2 separate regions of the Homo sapiens genome follow, and region 2 is linked to region 1. Evidence: fine-mapped expression QTL. A gene starts in region 1. The other region holds a variant in brackets. All regions are shown on one strand. Distances are from middle to middle.

Evidence for each region. PIP is the estimated chance that this variant, and not a neighbour inherited with it, causes the effect. A credible set is the group of variants that fine-mapping cannot tell apart.
Region 2: its variant is the best candidate, but not a certain one, in a credible set for the expression of PPP4R2 in fibroblasts (GTEx, PIP 0.86).

Annotation. Positions count from the first base shown.
Region 1 is chr3:72,994,985-72,999,374 of GRCh38, reverse strand. It overlaps PPP4R2 (protein phosphatase 4 regulatory subunit 2), which reads right to left and starts at 2,564. Exons shown (of 9, transcript NM_174907.4): 1 at 2,304-2,564; 2 at 1,217-1,298. The coding sequence starts at 2,337. It overlaps LOC124909395 (a long non-coding RNA gene), which reads left to right and starts at 2,184. Exons shown (of 2, transcript XR_007095961.1): 1 at 2,184-2,268. RefSeq lists enhancers at 1,580-1,629, 2,890-2,939 and a silencer at 2,080-2,709.
Region 2 is chr3:73,041,123-73,045,512 of GRCh38, reverse strand. The region is part of intron 2 of PPP4R2 (protein phosphatase 4 regulatory subunit 2); the gene reads right to left. Among named protein-coding and RNA genes, the nearest start is that of EBLN2, 18 kb to the left of the region's middle. The variant A/C (reference allele first, on the strand shown) is at 1,723.

The sequences.
Region 1 (4,390 bases):
AAAGATGGCATGTGGTCATTTTTAGGCTTATCTATATAAGCACAAATTAACAGTTTTACATTGTTCTAAATCAAGATGTTCTATATGAAACCCTAATGCGAAGGTAAAAATGACTTCCCCCGCCCAGAGGGTCCCATTTTTTAATGTAATAAATAGAAATACAACATTGAACACATCACACTGACGTTCTCAAAATGACTGGTGTATTTTAATAGAATACTAAGGAGACTCAGCTTGCAGGCATGACCATTAAATCAAGCACTGAGGCAGCAAAGGTTTTTTTCTTTCTAAAATTAGGCTAGTTGTTAAAAGGCTAGACTACAAATAAGCAAATCTTGTGAGAAATGAACACTTGCTAATAATAAAGCCAGAGAAATTATACAATTCTTGCTGAAAGCTACACTCATACTGGGCAGATAACCCACTTATTAACATTGAAACCATAGAAACCTACCCCTTTCCTGCTGCCCCAGCCCCCACCCAAAGACTACAAAAAGAAGTCATCAAAGATGCACTGTTGTCTACAAATAAACTTAGCCAGATTGTGTCTACCACACAAACTGCAAAACAATGACCTGGAATGTTCCTTCTGAACACAGCCCTAACTTTATAGCGTAAGTTTCAGATTCAGAACATTTGGAAACGAGCTGAATAAAATGCTGAGCATATGTAACAAGTCAGCTATCTTAGAAAGTCTACAAGTCAAAACTGTAGCATCTGGAATTTGTCAGATAATAACAGAGTCCTCCAGACGATAAATAGAAGTGACACTTTAAACACCTACATATGCAAATATGACCAAAAAAAGGCTGGACACACGACAATATGAGAAAATACCACCAAGACTCTGAAACAGAATCAAAGCCACAAAATTCTAGGAATAAGCCTATTTGTTATGGCCAAAAAGGGTCATAATGGAATAGGCATTCTTCCTTTCTCTGGCTCGTTAAGACTAATACATTCTCTAAGCGTGCCAAAGCCTAGCTATAAAGAAAATTTTAACATACACAGGTTTTTAAAATCCGTTACAGACCATGTATAAAGTAAGTAAGCGTATACGTTCTTTAAATGTAAATATATAAATTATTTAAATGACCAGGACTTCTACAATTTAGAATGAATTATTTAATTATCCCAAAATATACTTTTTTCCCTTTCCTGAGCAATTCTTAATAATGCACTGGTCTATAACGACAAATGCATGTTTTCAACTCACATTGTTTCTCCAGTCTTGGCTACATGACAAAGAAACTGATCCAGGACAGGACAAACTTCCTTTTTCCCCCTCTTCTCAAAATCTAGATGAAGGAAGAAAAAAAAACGTTATCAGTTTTCTCAAAAGCGCTCTAAAAACAAACTTTCCTCCTAGTCCTTTACCTTATTAAAAATCAATTAAATACAAAATTAAAAAAATAAGGCCTCTCAACCAAATTACCACCTCAATCCTCCAAGTTCTACTTCCAACATGTCACCCTCTTTACAGATAACAAGAATCCTCCTAAAGGGGGCACTCAACTTCACAAACCATTTTTAACGCAGTGCTTCTCGAAGTGTGGTCCGGGGGAACACCAGCATTATATTAAGCTGGGAATCCAGTGAAAATAAAAATCCCCAGGCCCCGACTCCCACCAATTGTTCATCTAAGTCCATAAATCTGCCTTTCTAAGAAGCACCAACTACCCCAAGTTGCCGTCCCCAAATGATTCTGAATGTCAAAGAATAATTCTCAAAACGCTGAAATCTCTCTACTCGAAGTTTGTAAGCCACTGTTCTCAAGCCTGTTGCGTGGAAGGCGTGCAATCAAGAACAGTGAAGGCAACCACCTCGAAATTAGGGCGCGGAAAGATGACTTCAAAAGCCCTGAAAAAGGCATACTGAGACAACTTAAAAGTTGCGATGCTACCCCCTACCCCCGCCCCCACCAACCGTTTACTTTTTCTCCCACCCCAACGCCTAGCGTACGGGTAGCCTGGTGGAGAAAAGAGGATATCTGGGAGGGAGGGGTCTGCGGGTCCGCCACTCGTCCCCTGAACGGGTGGGAGAAAGACTGGGGCCCCCGCAAGAGTTTCCCCGGCTCCCCTCCCCCAGCCCAGACGCCGGCGGCCGACACAAAGCCAGAGCGGGGCGGGAGAGAGCTGCCCACAGGGCTCCCCGCCCCTGGGGAGGTGGAGGGGGATGGGAGCCCGGGAAGCACTCTCCCCACGCCGCGCCCGGCCCCGGTCCTCGGAACCATCCGCCCTGAAAGGAGAGAAGAGCGAGCCGGAGAAGGTGAGGGGGAATGGAGAGGGGGCAGCTACCCCCACCTTTCAGCGCCTCCTGGAGCCTCTCGACGTCCATGGCTTCCCGGAGTCCCTCACAGCCTCCGCCTCCCTCCGCGGGTCTCTTGGGGACCGGAACGCCTCCCCCCACCCCCCCGACGCCCTCCCCCTCCCTCGCACACACTCCGGCACGCAGGCGACCGGGGGGGGGAAACGAAGGGAGCCGGGGGAAGCGTGCGAGAGAGCAAGACCGACAGAGCGAGCACCTCCCCAAGCCGCTACCACCAACCCTCCAACATGGCGCCCGGTACGTCACCGCGCGCACGCTCCCTGCCGCCGTCCTCGCTCCCGCCGCGCGCTCCGGCCCGGAACCCGAGAGCGCGTGCGCGGCCGAGGTGTGACGCTGGGGCCCAGTGGCGTCTGCGTCCCGGCGGCTTCCAGAGCCTCAGCCCCAGCCCCAGCCCCAGGCCCAGGCTCCGCGGAGCTGAAGACTGGACGGTCAGGCGAGAGGGTTGCAGGCGGACTCCTAGGCTTTGAATCCCTGCCATTTCCTCTCTGTGTGAACTTAAGCTACTTACTTCGCCTGTCTGAGCCTCATTTTCCCCATCTGTACAGTAAGGGCACTGGTACTGATGCCCTATGCAGTTGCTGTGAGAATTCAGTGTATACACTTCACGTTCAGAATGCGCCTAAAAAACGTAGAGCGAGGCCGGGCAGGGGGCTCAGGCCGGTGATCCCAACACTTTGGGAGGGAGGCCGAGGCGAGAGGATCGCTTGAGCCCAGGAGTTCGAGACCAGTCTGGGTAACAAAATGACCCCGCTCCCTCGCCCTTCTCTATATAAAAATAAATACAGGCCGGGCGCGGTGACTCAAGCCTGTAATCCCAGCACTTTGGGAGGCTGGGGCGGGCGGAGCACCTGAAGTCAGGAGTTGAAGACCAACCTGGCCAACATGGCGAAACCCCGTCTCTACTAAAAATACAAAATGTAGTCGGGCGTGGTCGCTCGTGCCTGTAATCCCAGTTACTCGGGAGGCTGAGGCACGAGAATCGCTTGAATCCAGGAGGCGGAGGTTGCAGTGAGCCGATATCGCGCCACTGCCTCCAGCCTAGGCGACAAAGCGAGACTGTTTCAAAAAAATAATAATAAAATTAACAATACATACATACACTAAGCATTGCTAATAATCCTAACAAGAATACCTCCCTGCTTAACCCAACGTTCGTTCGTCACTGGCCCACCTGTGGCAAGAAGTAATGTATACAGCAAAGTCATTAAGAGCTCAAGGTTTGGAATCAATATTCAAATCCCAACTCAACTACTTACTCCTTGTGTGGCCCTGAAGTAGTTACCTAAACTCAGGCAGCTTCAGGGTTCTTATTTATAAAATGAGGGTTGTAAAACGGCCACGAGGATTGAGTGAAATGGCAAATGTGAAACATTTGGCACAGTGCGTGAAACCTGGAACACTCAACGTGGCTGGGTTTTTATTACCACTGTTAGCATTATTACATGACATAATCTCCCAGGAGGTAGGAGAGGGCGGAAACCTCAGAAGTCCTCTGCAGCCCTGACATTTTACAAATGGGAAAGCTGTGTCACAGACAGCAAGTCTGGGGAGACAGAACTAGAACCCAGAACCCAAATCATCTGGCTCCCAGCCAGTGCGTGGACATTTTTATACTCATCTGTGAGCTTTTAAAAGAAAAGGTACTGCCCGGGCACGGTGGCTCACACCTGTATTCCCAACACTTCGGGAGTCTGAGGCAGGCGGATCACCTGAGGTCAGGAGTTTGATACCAGCCAGGCCAACATGGCAAAACCCTGTCTCTGCTAAAAATACAAAAAAAAAAAAATTAGCTGGGCTTGGTGGCGGGCACCTGTAATCGCAGCTACTCGGGAGGCTGAGGCAGGAGAATCCCTTGAACCCTGGAGGCTGAGGTTGCAGTGAGCCGAGATACTCCAGCCACTGTACTCCAGCCTGGGCACGACAGAATGGGACTCCGTCTCAAAAAAAAAAAAAAAAAAAAAAAAAAGAGAGAGAGAGAAAGAAAAGAAAAGGTACTGCGTTGTTCCACCTCCTCTTCCCAAAACCCAGCATAGCACAAAGTCATGGAAGGAAGGAGGGGAGA
Region 2 (4,390 bases), 46 kb before region 1:
TAGACATTTTCTCAAAAATAAATAAAGTGAACCTGTCATTTCAAGATAAATAACTGACAGTATTTGTTACCAATGATAAAAATTTGAACTTCTAAGCAAAAAACTAAAAGTCTGGACAATTTTTATTCTTCACTGTGAGCTTGAAAGCTTCCTGATATAGTCCCAAAATATTCTGAAGGCAACCAGTGTCGACATAAAAATATTATACGAGGCCAGGTGTGGTGGCTCACGCCTGTAATCCCAGCACTTTGGGAAGCCGAGACAGGAAGATCACTTGGGCCCAGGAGTTGGAAGCCAGCCTGGGCAAACAGCAATACTCCGTCTCTACAAAATAATTAATTACTAATTAATTTAAATTAGGCATGGTGGTATGCACCTGTAGTCCCAGCTACTCAAGAGGCCGAGGCAACAGGATTGCTTGAGCCCAGGAGGTAGAGGCTGCAGTAAGCCAAGATCACACCACTGGAATCCAGCCTGAGCGACAGAGCAAGACCCTGTCTCTTAAAGATACTGTGTGATACCAAAAGCACAAGCAACAAAATTGATAAATTGAATTACATCAAAATTTAAAATTTTGTGCATCAAAGGACACTATCAACAGAGCAGAAAGTCAAATCGTGAAATGGGAGAAAATATTTGCAAATCTTTTATCTGATAAGGGGTTAATATCCAGATTATATAAAGAACACCTACAACTTAACAAAAAAGATGACCCAATTTAAAAATGGGCAAAGTACTTAAATACGCACTTCTCCAAAGAAGATATACAAATAGCAAACACACAAGATGCTTAACACCATTAATCTTGGGGAAATGTAAATCCAAATCACAATACCACTTTACACCCATTAGGGTTGGCTATTATCTAAAAAACAAGTGAACAAGTATTGGCTGGCCAAGGATGTAGAGAAACTGAAACTTTCCTTTCTGAGACAGTGTCACTCCGTTGCCAGGGCTGGAGAGTGGTGGTGCAACCTCGGCTCACTGCAACCTCTGCCTCCTGGGTTCAAGCAATTCTCCTGCTTCAGCCTCCCAAGTAGCTAGGATTACAGGTGCCTACCACTACGTCCAGCTAACTTTTTGTATTTTTAGTAGAGACGGGGTTTCACCATGTTGGCCAGGCTGGTCTCGAACTCCTGACCTCGTGATCAGCCCACCTCAGCCTCCCAAAGTGCGTGAGCCACTGCCCCCAGCCAAGAAACCAAAACTCTTGTGCATTGCTGGTAGGAACAATGCAGTCACTGTGGAAAGCAGTTTGGTTGCTCCAAAAACAACAACAACAACAACAACAAAAATTATGAAACCACCCTATGATTCAGGAATCCCATTTCTCCATAGATCCCCAAAAGGTGAAAACAACCCAAATGTGCCAACAGCACATGAATGGATAAGCAAAATGTGAGAGATAAACACACACACACACACGAATATTATCCAGTCTTTAATCTGAAAGAAATTCTGACATGGATTAAGCTTGATGGCATTATGCAAAGTGAAATAAGCCAGACACAAAAAGAACGACTATTGTATGATTCCACTTATATGAGCTATCAAGAATAGTCAATTTAGAGTCGTCTGGAACTGTGGGGAGGAAGGTGAAGGGACTTATTCTTTAATGTGTACAATGTTTCAAGTTTGTGTAAATGAAAAGTTCTGCAGATGGATGATAGTGATGGTAACATACATCGTGAGTGTACTTACTGGCAATAAATTGTACACTTC[A/C]AATAGTTAAAATGGTAAGGTTTACATTAGGTATATTTCAATAGGTATTTCCCCACAAAGAAGATACACAAATGGCCAATAAGCATATGAAAAGATGCTCAGCATTATTATCTATTAGAGAAATGCAAATCAAAACCACCCATTTCACACCCACTAGGGTGGCTATAATCAAAAAGATGAATAATGAACGAGTGCTGGGTTGATGTGGGGAAACTGGTAATGTCATACATTACTGGTGGGAAAGTAAAATGGTGTAGTTGCTTTGGAAAGTACTTGGGCAGTTCCTCAGAAAGGTAAATGCAGATTTGTAATCCAACAATTCCATTCTATTAAATGAGTGAATTATGTATTTTAAAAGTATGCTATTACTTTTAAAAATGGTGAGGATAATTAAAAGCTATTTGCATGATTAGTTTTTTCCACCTTTCCCTATCCTATTTTAGAAAGGGGAATTTGAGGTTTAACAAGCAGAATTTTTAATTTTTAATTTCACAGAATTTTTGATATGCCTAATATTAATCCTTATTAATGTACAATTGCTTTTGGTTCCTAAAATTTATCTTTAAATTTTATGAGACTCTCCACATGCACTTCATACTTAAACATACCAGGGCAAGTTATACTGAAATAGGACGCTTATACTTTTCATTTCTTAAATTAATAATTTTTTGTGCTTTTAATAATCACCAATTCATAGCGTGAGTTCAGATTTCCATATGCACAGAGTCTTGTGGTGTGTTTTAATCTCATCTTTCCATTAACCATCTGACATGACATGTTTGCGGTCCAAAAAAAGCACATTAATGGGAACAGCCAGACAAGAGGTATGGGATCCCAGGTAATGGAAATTCTGAAGAGATTCAAAGACTCTATGGCACTAACTCATGAGACAGAAATTAAGCCCCATAAATTGACATGAATTATGAACACACTGTAGTCTTAACTTTCAAATAAATCAAGCAGTTACTCTAAATTAGATCAATACGATGCAATTCAAGTGATACTATTCCACATATATATATGGGGAGGGCATTCATAAAATGTGAAAGATACAGCTTTTTGATGGAGGACAACTATTTGATAAAAACAAAAACAGAAAATGCTTCCCTAAAAGTTATATAATTCAGGGGCCAGGCGCGGTGGCTCACGGATGTAATCCCAGCACTTTGGGAGGCCGAGGCGGGCTTATCACAAGGTCAAGAGACCAAGACCATCCTGGCCAACATGGTGAAATCCTGTCTCTACTAAAAATACAAAAATTAGCTGGGTGTGGTGGCACAAACCTGTATTCCCAGCTACTCGGGAGGCTGAGACAGGAGAATTGTTTGAACCCAGGAGGCGGAGGTTGCAGTGAGCCAAGATTGCAGCACCGCACTCCAGCCTGGGTGACACAGCGAGACTCCATCTCAAAAAAAAAAAAAAAAAAAAAGAAATTATATTCAGGCACAAAAAACAGGCCATGCGCAAATCAACTAAAAACTTGGCAACAAAAACAATTTCTTAGGAATGTACACTCACTGGATGAGTAGAAATGAGAACAAAAAAACCCTTGGCTTTCAATATGAAAATCAAATTATTCTAAAAAGATGCTCATAAGACATAAACACATTTTCAACTTCAGAACAAATTTCTCCACATAAAATCCCCTCCAATAAAATACATACTCAAAATTTAAATCTACTTTACTGAAATTAACTCAATAATGTACTGAAATTAATCACCATTAACTAAGTAGCTTCACCTCCCTTCACTTCCTTTTTCTTCTCCCCTTCCATTTTCCCATTTTTGCAGTTTCTCCTGTAGGAAAGTACAATTCATATCTCTAATAAATATATCCTGGTGCTAGATTTTACATTGACCTTTTTTCTCCATAGGAACTCACAAGTTCATATTCAAACATGTTTCTCTCACAATTCTCTAAAGGCTAAAGGTATTTTCCAGAGGCTTAAGGACAGAAAATCCATCTTTTCTTTTCCCAAGTGGTGCTACAACAATTTAGTGGCCAGCGGCCAACCACCTTAACGTACTGGTTCCTAACATTTCCAGTTCTACTAAGATTACTCTCTACTCAGCCTATCTGCATTGCACACAAAGTGTGAGGAACACTAAGAGCACAACAAAGCTCAGGAGAGTCCTACTACTATTAGCTACTCCAAAGGATAGCAAATACTGCACCATTTATAAACATCAAACGGGAATCTGAGAAGAATGAATAAATAAAATCTAATGGAGATGATCATTCATTAAAGGTGACAGGCTTAAAATACACTTAATGTTTAAAAGGCAGATATTTCAATCAGATGACTTAAAATGTCAAATAATTCAGTCTTAATTATATGACTGAGGCAAACAAAACAAGTATATTTAATCTGAATACTGAATTAAATAAGTGAAAGATCTGCAAAAGTAAGAAAACACTGAGTTGCTTACATAAAATTATGACATTTTTAAAAGGACTAATTTTAAAACACAAATTACTCTCTCTATAAATGGGGCACGAAACAAGAGATTCTTTTACATTATCATTCCACATCATATTACATCTTGTCGACTAACTGAACATTAAAATAGATCAGTGGAACAGAAGAGAGCGGAGAAGCACACCCACACATATATGAAAATCTGATATATGGTAAAGGACAGATTAGTCAGTAAACTGAAAAATATT